2 linked regions of the Homo sapiens genome follow. The protein of the gene in region 2 interacts with the protein of the main gene of each other region in a biochemical or structural test. Each region holds a gene or a part of one and is shown on either strand. Other genes may lie near its edges. The genes, in order: PBX1 and HOXB1.

What was found.
Region 1: the proteins of HOXB1 (region 2) and PBX1 are reported together in a solved structure, tested with the Homo sapiens proteins (2 studies listed by BioGRID and IntAct, with this or other methods).

The regions. Positions count from the first base shown.
Region 1 is NC_000001.11:164,849,027-164,852,468, reverse strand, and holds the end of PBX1 (pre-B-cell leukemia transcription factor 1), read right to left. Parts: 3' UTR 3,130-3,442; coding exon of another isoform or gene 3,067-3,129; 3' UTR 638-3,066; downstream 1-637. UniProt on the Homo sapiens protein: Transcription factor which binds the DNA sequence 5'-TGATTGAT-3' as part of a heterodimer with HOX proteins such as HOXA1, HOXA5, HOXB7 and HOXB8. Binds to the DNA sequence 5'-TGATTGAC-3' in complex with a nuclear factor which is not a class I HOX protein.
Region 2 is NC_000017.11:48,527,943-48,535,088, reverse strand, and holds HOXB1 (homeobox protein Hox-B1), read left to right. Parts: upstream 1-4,077; 5' UTR 4,078-4,184; coding exon 4,185-4,761; intron 4,762-5,213; coding exon 5,214-5,542; 3' UTR 5,543-6,563; downstream 6,564-7,146. UniProt on the Homo sapiens protein: Sequence-specific transcription factor which is part of a developmental regulatory system that provides cells with specific positional identities on the anterior-posterior axis. Acts on the anterior body structures.

The sequences.
Region 1 (3,442 bases), on a different chromosome or scaffold from region 2:
TGTTCCAGCTAGAACACTGGGGATACCACACTCTGTAACACTTCGAAACCTCAAAGGTCAGGGGTTCAATATGAGTGCAGACTATTGGAAGAGATGCTCCTTTGGGATGGTAGGCATAACAGATGGTAGAGATGCACATCTGTTGGGAGTAACATCTATCACACTCCTGAGAGCCTACAACTGGGTATTATTTGTAACCTAGATTCCTTCCCCTGAAATATCTCTTGGGAACCACAATTTTTCTTATGACCAGATCACAGCAGACAAAGAGAAGAAAAGGAGAATCACTGGGCAAACAGCCATGACTTAGGAACTTAGAATTTATTATGGAAAATACTCCTGGCATTTCTCTGAACTGGTGCTTGGTGGATGGCTGCCAGTAGCAAGCAGACAAGATGGGGTGCTCTGTCCCTCTGTAATACAGCTATTGTTTACCCACAAATGATCCTTCCTTCCTTCCTTCTTATTTCCTGAGTGAAGAAGGTGGTCCATAAGGTCTCTGCCCCACCACCATAGTATGTAGACTTTTCAGTGATTAGGGCAACAGTTTAAACCATAATCTACACTAATGCAGGCCTAGTTTGGGGAAAGAGAAGTTGCCAGCATGTAAGAAAAGAAATGTGCACAAAATACAAGTATTTTTTTTTGCAACAAAAGAAACTATTTATTTGGAATATGCATTACCAGTACAAATTAGGAGACTGTAAAACCTACACCGTGTTAGTATCATTAGAGAACACAAAAGTTCAGTTGGAATCAAAAGGGACAGAAGCCTGTGCTCTCACAGAAGCAGAAAAGCTTAAACTTTCAAAACCAAAACAGAGCAGAGCTTTGCAGGTTTATATTCTGAATAATAAGAAAAGGGGAGGGGTAGGGGGAGAATAAAACCAACAACCAAAGGAAAGCATTTCAAATTGAAAATGCCAAAGGAAAGAAGTAATAAGAGAGAAAAGGAGAAAAACATTGAATGTTTTATTTATTTTAACAAAAGAAAAAAAAGTTTACAAAAAATAAAAGATTCCAGGAAGCTTTGAGCTAGGGATTGAAACCATAAAGGTGATGTGAAAAGCTCATCATTATTTTGTTGTGACTTCAAGAGTACAAGTGTTCAGGTAGAAATATTTCCTAAAGCATTGCTCCACAATTCTGCATTCTTTCTTTACTTTTCTTGCTTAAGTTCTGACCACTTTCTGAACATAATTTGTTGAATGATGGTATTTAAAATGAATTTTTTTCCAGATAATATGGCTTTCTTTTTTCCTCTAATAAAAACATTCCAAATCAAGCCAGTTTTGCAATTTGCTTTAAGCAGCTGCCTAAGTCAGAGGTTACTAAGAGGTGTACTCTGTGAAGTAAACGTAACCTCTTAGCATTAAAACTACAGCATTGAGCCTGGCCCAATATCTCATTAACTCTTCATCCAAAACCAGGACTCAGCTGGCAGACTGGCCCCAAGGACTTCTTCCTGCATGTAGTTTACTTAACCAATGGTGCCCATCATACCAGCATCTCCTGCGGGACTCTCCTGGAAGAAAAGGCCTCTTTGGTTGGAAGAGGCCTCATGGAATGTAGTTATTAATTAGGGAGAAATAAAACAAAGTACTTGGCTGTGATAATCAGAATCAAAAACAGCAAAAACCTTTCCTGATAGCATAAAAAGTTCCCTTGGACTAAACGTTTTTGAATTTTTAAAAGGCTAAAAGGAGAAGTATGTCCCTGATTTTATTTTTCTCAGGGACTGCATGAGTGTCACACTCTCTGGAAATGCAGGTGAGCAACGAGACATCAACATGGGCTTGATCTTCGCTTTTGGCATTAACTGAATTCTGAAGCAAAGTAGAAGAACAAGCCTACTTGTTCTTACTCCTCTGCCCAAGTCATCTTTTCACATCACCTTGTATACATATTGAAGAAAAACAGCAAGATCATAATCCTGACAATTAAAAAAAGCCCCCCAATAAACAAACCAAAAATAACACAAAACAAAACATTTTTTTTTTTGTATTTTTAAGAGCAAGAATCAAGAAAAGAAAAGAATTTATTTCTGGGTCTCAAAGTTAATAAACATAATAATGTGTTAGGTTGTACCTATTATGCTCACTATTCCAACCTTTTTTTTTTTTTTTTTAGTTTACAAAATGAATTACTGTCACTTTTAAACATTGTGAAACAAGAAATGGATGTGCACAACTCGACACTTTTCTAGCATTCTTGAACTAATTCACAAATGCAAGAAAATAAAAGAAAAATGAGGGAAATGATGAATGTAGGTAGTCTGGTGTTAAAAACTAATGCAGGAATGATGCGCATTGTCACAGAAAGAAGAGGGGAAATTCCCCATCCTGTTTTGCGTGCTATGAGGGTCATTTTTAAAATTTTTATTATAAACACTATTAAATTCAGACCGCTTTTTTGGTTTTTTTTTTCTTTATCTGAATATACAAGAACATTCATTATCAAATGTTCATCATCAATACTACAAAGAACGAGACACAAGTCGCAAGAAACAATGGAAAATGTTAATAAAGCTGAAAGAATCGTTGAGTATTTTTTTGTTTCTTTTAAAGTTTTTTTTAAATTTGAGTTTCTGTAGTTTCATCTTTTTTGGTATCGAAGTCAGGTTTTTCTGGGCAGAAAAACAAAGAGCAGGAAAGAGAGAGACAGAGAGAAAGATGTGTGAGAAAAGACAACCAGCAAATAAAGAATCACCACCATAGCAAAATAAAACATAAATTGAAAGAAGGTGCCACTTGGCAAATGTACTGCACGGGCGTCAATTCCATGCCAGAGGGAGGATGGATTAGGGATGAAAAGGAGGAGATAAGGAAGAGTTACAAGGTGGGCAAACCCAGGGTCTAGTATCGTTTCTCAGGGGAAATTCGCTGTCGGGGAAAATGGAGCACTCCCACATCTATTAGAAAATGAAGAAATCCTGGGGTGCATCTTGCTCTCTGTAGGACTGGCCTCATGTGAATTCCCAGGAAGCTGTGTTTCCAGAGGCATGCTCTTTCCAAACCCATCCTGCTGCTCTCAGTGTTCTCCTGCTTCGCCTAATGTGGACAGATCTCACGGATGCCACGTTGGAAGTCGGAAGTGATAGTGGGCTTGCCGGGGGTGCCGGGGGAGGTGCTGGGTATAGAGAAGACTAAGTGAAATGCTGGTTGGGGAAAATGCTGTGAAAGGTGATCATCAGTGAAAACTACGGCCCGGAGAGAAACTGCCTGTGCAAATGTAGCCCTGTTCTGATCTTTTGCATTAACTTAACATGGCAATTATTCAGGCCACATCTGGAGTCACTCTTCTTGTTTCCAAGAGAACCCTTTTGTCTCTCTTTCGTACTTTGCCCTAAGTCAAGCAAATGTGATTCAACCATGTTCTTGCGTGGGTAGTTTCATTATATTCCTGCCACTAAGATGGAGTTCTCCACTGATTCTAATCACTA
Region 2 (7,146 bases):
TACTTCCTAAGCCCCAACTTTTTTTTTTTTTTTTTGAGTCTTGCTCTGTCGCCCAGGCTGGAGTGCAATGGTGCGATCTCAGCTCACTGCAACCTCCGCCTCCCGGGTTCAAGCGATTCTCCTGCTTCAGCCTCTTGAGTAGCTGGGATTATAGGTGCCTGCCACCACACCCGGCTAATTTTTGTATTTTTTAGTAGAGATGGGGGTTTCACCATGTTGGTCAGGCTGGTCTTGAACTCCCGACCTCAGGTGATCTGCCCTCCTTGGCCTCCCAAAGTGCTGGGATTACAGGCATGAGCCACCTCACTGGCCTAGCCCCAACCTTTGATCTTGGGTTTGGCCTCCCTAGATTTGGGCTGGGGAGAGCAGATAGAGACATTTAAGGTCTAATGAGAGAATTTAGATTGCTCCTGCCAAGCCCCCAGCTGAAGCAGCTTCCTTCACAGAAAGGACCAGAATCTGAGGTTAAACTTCTAATATATCCCCATTCTGGTTAGATAGTTTCCTTGCCTGCATTCTCAGTGTGATAAGGAGTGAAAACTGTCAAAGATAACTTCAGTTCCAAACATGTCTATGTTCTCCTTGCTCTCTTTTATGTACAAGCAGATCATACAAACTAGGACATCAACTTTATTTCATTTTGGTGTTGGGTCCACCCAGACCCTCTCTGGTGAGTTTAATTTGGTCCACCAAAAATCCTATGGGCCATAGGTTATTCCAGTCAGCGAAGCTTCTTTTAGGGAGGAGGAGGAGATTGGGAACCTAGGGAGCAAAGTTGCTTGGTTCTCCCAGTCTTTTCTGCTGGGGCTGGGAGAGCCAGCAGGAATTTGGGCAAGTTTTAATGTCCCTGCTAACACAAGAGAAGGTGGCATGACTCAGGGATGAATTGGGGAGCATAGTGAATTTGGAAAGCTGAGGCAATCACTGCAATTGACAGTATAACTTGAGGCACTTTTTTTTTTTTTTTAAATAGAGACAGGTTCTCTGTCACCCAGGCTAGAGTGCAGTGGTGTGGTCATAGCTCATTGCAGCCTTGAACTCCTGGGCTCAAGCCATCCTCCCTTCTGAGCAGCTGGGACTTCAGGGAGGCACCACCACACCCAGCTAATTTTTGTATTTATTTATTTTTGTAGAGATGTGGTCTCACCATCTTGCCCAGGCTGGTCTCGAAGTCCTGGGCTCAAGTGATCCTCTTGCCTTGGCCTTCCAAAGTGCTGGGACTGCACCCAGCCAACTTAGGGCACTTTTGCCTCAGTCTTTGCTTGCTGTCATGAATAATAGATTGTTGGTGACTTCAGCTGTTATAAAGGGAATGCATTCCTCAATTCCCAGATTTGTGCTGTTTTATTAAACTGATTTGAAATTCACTTCTTCCTTTAGACCTCAAATTGTTCCCTTAATTATGAAGGCAAAGGATGGGGTGAGAAGATTCTCCCCGGGATGAGGAAAAGGTGGAAGGTGAACAAGTCTCAAGTCTCTCAGAAGCAGGGCTGCCAGATCAGATACAGGCCTTGTTCAAATTTGGGGTTAGAAGACAAGCCCTAGATTCCTCCAGACAAGTTATTCTTAGCGTCTGTGGAAGACATCTTAAAATGAAAGGATGAAGCATCTGCAAATCTTCTCCCCGAAAAAGTAAAATAGAAAGAAATAAGCTTGCTCTTACCTCAATAATTTCTTTCTCTTCAATTCCTCTGCAGGTCACCTCCTCCCATCTCAATTTTCCTTTCTCTTGTCTGCCCTCATTCCCTTGGCAAGTGAACATTCTCTCTCACCCCCATTGCATCTATTAAAGAAGTTACCAGCTTGTGCCCCTCCCCCTCAGCTTGAAGCAGGGTCTGAAGCAGAGTACACATGATCGGGAAAAGGAGGCAGGGGTTCTGTGAAATGCTTTGAGCTCTTTCAGAGTTGGGGGTGATGGCCAGGTGTGGCAGCTCAGGCCTGCAATCCTAGCACTTTGGGAGGCCGAAGCAGGCAGATCGTTGAGGCCAGGGGTTCGAGACCAGCCTGGCCAACATGGTGAAACCCTGTCTCTACTAAAAATACAAAAAAAATTAGCCAGGCCCAGTGGTGCCTGACTGTGGTCCCAGCTACTCAGGAGGCTGAGGTGAGAGGATTGCTTGAACCTGGGAGGCAGAGGTTGCAGTGAGCTGAGATCATGCCACCGCACTCCAATCTGGATGACAGAGTAAGACCCTATCTCAAAAAACAAAAACAAAACAAAACCCTCCCCCTCAAAAAAACAGAGTTGGGCTAGGCCCACAATTATTAGAGAAGAGAAAGGCAGTGTGATGCTGGTGGTATAGAGCAGAAAGCAGGAGAGGCAGCTACGGTAAGGCCAAGCAAAACAAGAGGGAATGGGAGACAAAGATGGAGGGGCAAGACACAGACTGCAGGGGACAACTTTGGGGTCCCTTGCAGAGGAAGGAGTATTCGCCCTGCCCTTTTTGGGGTGTGGAAACCTGAGAAGTTTTGAGGGTCCTCCTTAAACCTGTCCCACCTGCTTCCCTTTCCTCTCCTGAGCTCCGTTGTTTACAGAGATCACTCCCTGAACTCTTGCCCTCCTGGACTTGCCCTAGCTTCGGCCCCAGGCCTCCGGCCAGGCAGACACCCTGACAGGTTACAAATGAGCGTGGGTGTTGGATTGCCCCAAGCTCTTGCCCTCAAGTTGTCCGGAGGAGGAGAGTCAATGGGCTCTACCTAAGGGCTTCTCTTCTAGTCCCATCTGGGTTTGGAGTCTGAGAGAGTGAAGAAGACACATCCTGTGTCCCTCCGCAACAGCCACACAGAACAAAAAGGGGCGAGACTCCACTCCTCACTCTGGAGTCTTAGAATTCAGAGCCTCAGGGCCTCCACCCCGATTCTCCCACTCTCTGACCAAACTCCCTTTATCAATCCTAGAAAAATTACTGAAATCTGGAGGAATCTTTAAGATTTAACTGGTATTAAATTTATGCATTTGAGGTTTGGAAATTTTTTTTTTTTGGAAGGAGATGGAGGGTGGTGAAGGAGAGACAGGTAGGAGGGAACCAGGAGAATGCAGGTCTCCACTAGTTTTAAACACTTCAAGAAGAGAATAAAAAATTCCCCTCCTCTTCACCCCGCTGTAAACATCACCTGGCTGTGCTCATTGTGGCTCTCTAGAGAGATATAGGGAGTTATTTAAGTCTGAGTGAGTGAGCCAGCTACAGCTATGGATGGCTAGAGAGAGGATAAATACATCTAGAGAGATGAGAGGTAGGGAACGAATATAAATATGGAGAAAGATGGACGAACAGAGAGATGGATTGAGACAGAGAGAATATAAAGAGAGGCTGAGGGAGAGAAATGGATGTGTGAATGAGGAGAGAACATTTATGCAAAGAGAGAGAGAGGGAAGATGGGGCATTTCTCATCCTTTTCTCCACATTTCTGTAGTCCTGCCTTGCTCCCTGAAATGCCAATTTCCCACCCCTGGCTTCATGAATTCTTCCTCTAGATTCTAGATCCTGCCCCACACCCTTAGGTGTTTTTGCACCACCTTCCCCCACCTCCCCACCACACAGTCATCCATTTGGCCCAAGATAACATACCTCACCCGGCTGTCCTAGCCCACCACCCTAAGACAAATTGGAAGAAAGGAACATGGTTTGGGAGTTCTGGGCAAAGTATGGAAGCTGGATTCCCCACCTCCAGGTCCACAGACTTAGGGGGAAGGTTTCTCTGAGGGGTGGGAAGAGTGAGGGGCAGCTGGCTTGAATTTGTCCAAATCTAATAACCCAGGAGCCTATTGAAGGCCTTGGGGGTTGGGAGGGAAGGAAAGTCTTGAATATTCTCCTAACTTTTTCCCCCTCTCCCTCTGGTCCCTTCTTTCCAAAAGTCTTTGAAGAAAGATGTTTTTGACGCTTCCATGTCGCTCTCAGATGGATGGGCTGCGGGTGATTGAAGTGTCTTTGTCATGCTAATGCTTGGGGGGTGATGGATGGGCGCTGGGGCTGCCAAACTCTGGCCCGCTTAGCCCATTGGCCTGGGAGAGATCACATGTGCCCCCTCACCCCCACTCCCTACCCCCTTCCTAGGGAAGCGCTTGCCCAGGCGAGCGGGTCAGGCCATGGATTCGAGCCCCAGCGCTGTGACATACTGCCGAAAGGTTGTAGGGCAAGAGGGTGTCTCCCCCAAACGGGCCGACCCTCCTGCGGCCTTGACGCATGGACTATAATAGGATGAACTCCTTCTTAGAGTACCCACTCTGTAACCGGGGACCCAGCGCCTACAGCGCCCACAGCGCCCCAACCTCCTTTCCCCCAAGCTCGGCTCAGGCGGTTGACAGCTATGCAAGCGAGGGCCGCTACGGTGGGGGGCTGTCCAGCCCTGCGTTTCAGCAGAACTCCGGCTATCCCGCCCAGCAGCCGCCTTCGACCCTGGGGGTGCCCTTCCCCAGCTCCGCGCCCTCGGGGTATGCTCCTGCCGCCTGCAGCCCCAGCTACGGGCCTTCTCAGTACTACCCTCTGGGTCAATCAGAAGGAGACGGAGGCTATTTTCATCCCTCGAGCTACGGGGCCCAGCTAGGGGGCTTGTCCGATGGCTACGGAGCAGGTGGAGCCGGTCCGGGGCCATATCCTCCGCAGCATCCCCCTTATGGGAACGAGCAGACCGCGAGCTTTGCACCGGCCTATGCTGATCTCCTCTCCGAGGACAAGGAAACACCCTGCCCTTCAGAACCTAACACCCCCACGGCCCGGACCTTCGACTGGATGAAGGTTAAGAGAAACCCACCCAAGACAGGTAGGGCTCAGATGTGGCCACCCCTTCTCCGGGGCCCAAAGCATCTCTGCTTCCCCTGCAGTGACATGTCCTGGGTCTGGGCTGGGTTCTTCTCTTTCAGCGGCTCTGGTAGACACAGGTAAGAGCACAACCTACGTCTCAGGTCAGGTGAGGTCTCCCCACCCAGTATGTAACCGGTCACCCCAGGAGTAAGTTTCCATACACACCCCACTTCCTGATCTGTGCACCCAGCACAGACCCAGGACCTGGTGTGCATGGGGGATGGAAGTATGGGGAAGGCTGCTCCAGACTTGGTGATCACCATGGGGGTACCTGGTGGTCCCTGGGAACTTTGACAACTGTACTTGGGCAGAATGGCAAATGGAGGTCCAGAGCCAGCCCCGGGAGGAGGGAAGCGGAAGGAGAAAGAGGTGAGAGAATTGACCTGGCCTTTCTCCCTGCCCCGCCCCTAGCGAAGGTGTCAGAGCCAGGCCTGGGCTCGCCCAGTGGCCTCCGCACCAACTTCACCACAAGGCAGCTGACAGAACTGGAAAAGGAGTTCCATTTCAACAAGTACCTGAGCCGGGCCCGGAGGGTGGAGATTGCCGCCACCCTGGAGCTCAATGAAACACAGGTCAAGATTTGGTTCCAGAACCGACGAATGAAGCAGAAGAAGCGCGAGCGAGAGGAAGGTCGGGTCCCCCCAGCCCCACCAGGCTGCCCCAAGGAGGCAGCTGGAGATGCCTCAGACCAGTCGACATGCACCTCCCCGGAAGCCTCACCCAGCTCTGTCACCTCCTGAACTGAACCTAGCCACCAATGGGGCTTCCAGGCACTGGAGCGCCCCAGTCCAGCCCTATCCCAGGCTCTCCCCAACCCCAGGCCTGGGCTTCACTGGCCTGGGGATCCTCTCTAGGGCTGAAATGCCAGTTTAGAGCTGCCTGGGGGTGGGAGGGGGGATGGGGAAACATTTTTCTCAGACCTGGGTGGCTGGGGGCCCTACAGGACCAGAGGCCTGGGAGGCATGGAACCTGTCAAATGTAGAGGGAAGGGCTTCTGCCTTTGATCTGGGGATCAGCTCAGTGTCAACATGTGGTGGGGGTGGGGGCCAGCCTCATCCTCCTGGATTCATCCTCCTTTCCCTTCCAACTTGGGTTTATTCGGTTCAGTGCCTTCGAGCTTTGAGGAGTCTCCTCACGCACTCTTATCCTAACTCCCCCTTCTAGGCCTGACACAGAACCTTAAATTTTCTTGTGTGGGAGGTGTTTGGGTGCAGCCATATTATTATCAATGCTTAATCCAGTCACCACAGACCTTACAATAGCACCAGCTGCCTTGTGACAGACCAAAAAGCCCCCCGCCCCCATCTAACCCCATTAGCCCTCTCCTGGCATATTTATATTGCACTAATGCAGCCTTCAGAGGTTGTTTTCTGAGACCTGCCTCCTCACACCAGCGACCTCATCACTATGTCACCAAAGTGTTTTGGAACTTGGTATTCCAGAGACTTCTGGAACGCCGTGCAAGGCCTGCCCCCAGCAAGCCACAACCAGGAAGGTGCAGGCACGCCCCCACTAGCTCCTCCCCTATTTATTGCCTCCTGGAAAACCCAGGACCCTCTTCCCCATCTCCACCCCTACCCCTGGGGGCAGCCCAGGGAGAGCCAGGCACAATGAGGGCTCCCAACAGCTGCAAGGATTTATCTGAACCTTTGAGAAAGAGGAGGAGCCATCTAAGTTTCTGGAAACCTGAGCCCCAAGTGAGCCCGGGTTCTCTCTGTACCTGCAACTACCTCATTTCAATAAAGTCTGTGTTTTCCCTTCTTCCTGCCTGCTTCTGTTTCTCCATTCAGGGGTAGAAGAGGCCTCATACTCCGTGCACCGTGGAGAAGAGGTGAAGAAAGAGTGGCCATTGGCTGGTTGGGCTGGAATGAACTGAGCTTTAAGATCTCAGCTGGATAAAGAGAAGGACTTACTGGGTGTGGCCTAAGCAGGATTGGGTCCCAGGCATTCAGGCTTGACAGTTGTCAGTCCCTTGGTTATTGGGAGAATCCAGAAAAGCATGGAAGAAGTCTGTGGAATGAATGCAATTCCCAGAGATTTTTCTTTTTCTTTTCTTTTTTTCTTTCTTTCTTGCTTTCTTTCTTTCTTTTTCTTTTTCTTTTTTTTTTTTTTTTTTTTTTTTTGAGACAGGGTCTGGCTCTGTCGCTCAGGCTGGAGTGCAGTTTTTTGGTTTGTGTTTTGTTTTTTGGTTTTGTGTTTTGGTTTTTGTTTGTTTGTTTGTTTGAGACAGGGTCTCGCTCTGTTGCTCAGGCTGGAGTACAGTGGCATAATCTCCGTTCACTGCAACCTCTGCCTCTCAGGTTCAAGCGATTCTCCACCTCAGTCTCCAGAGTAGCTGGGACCA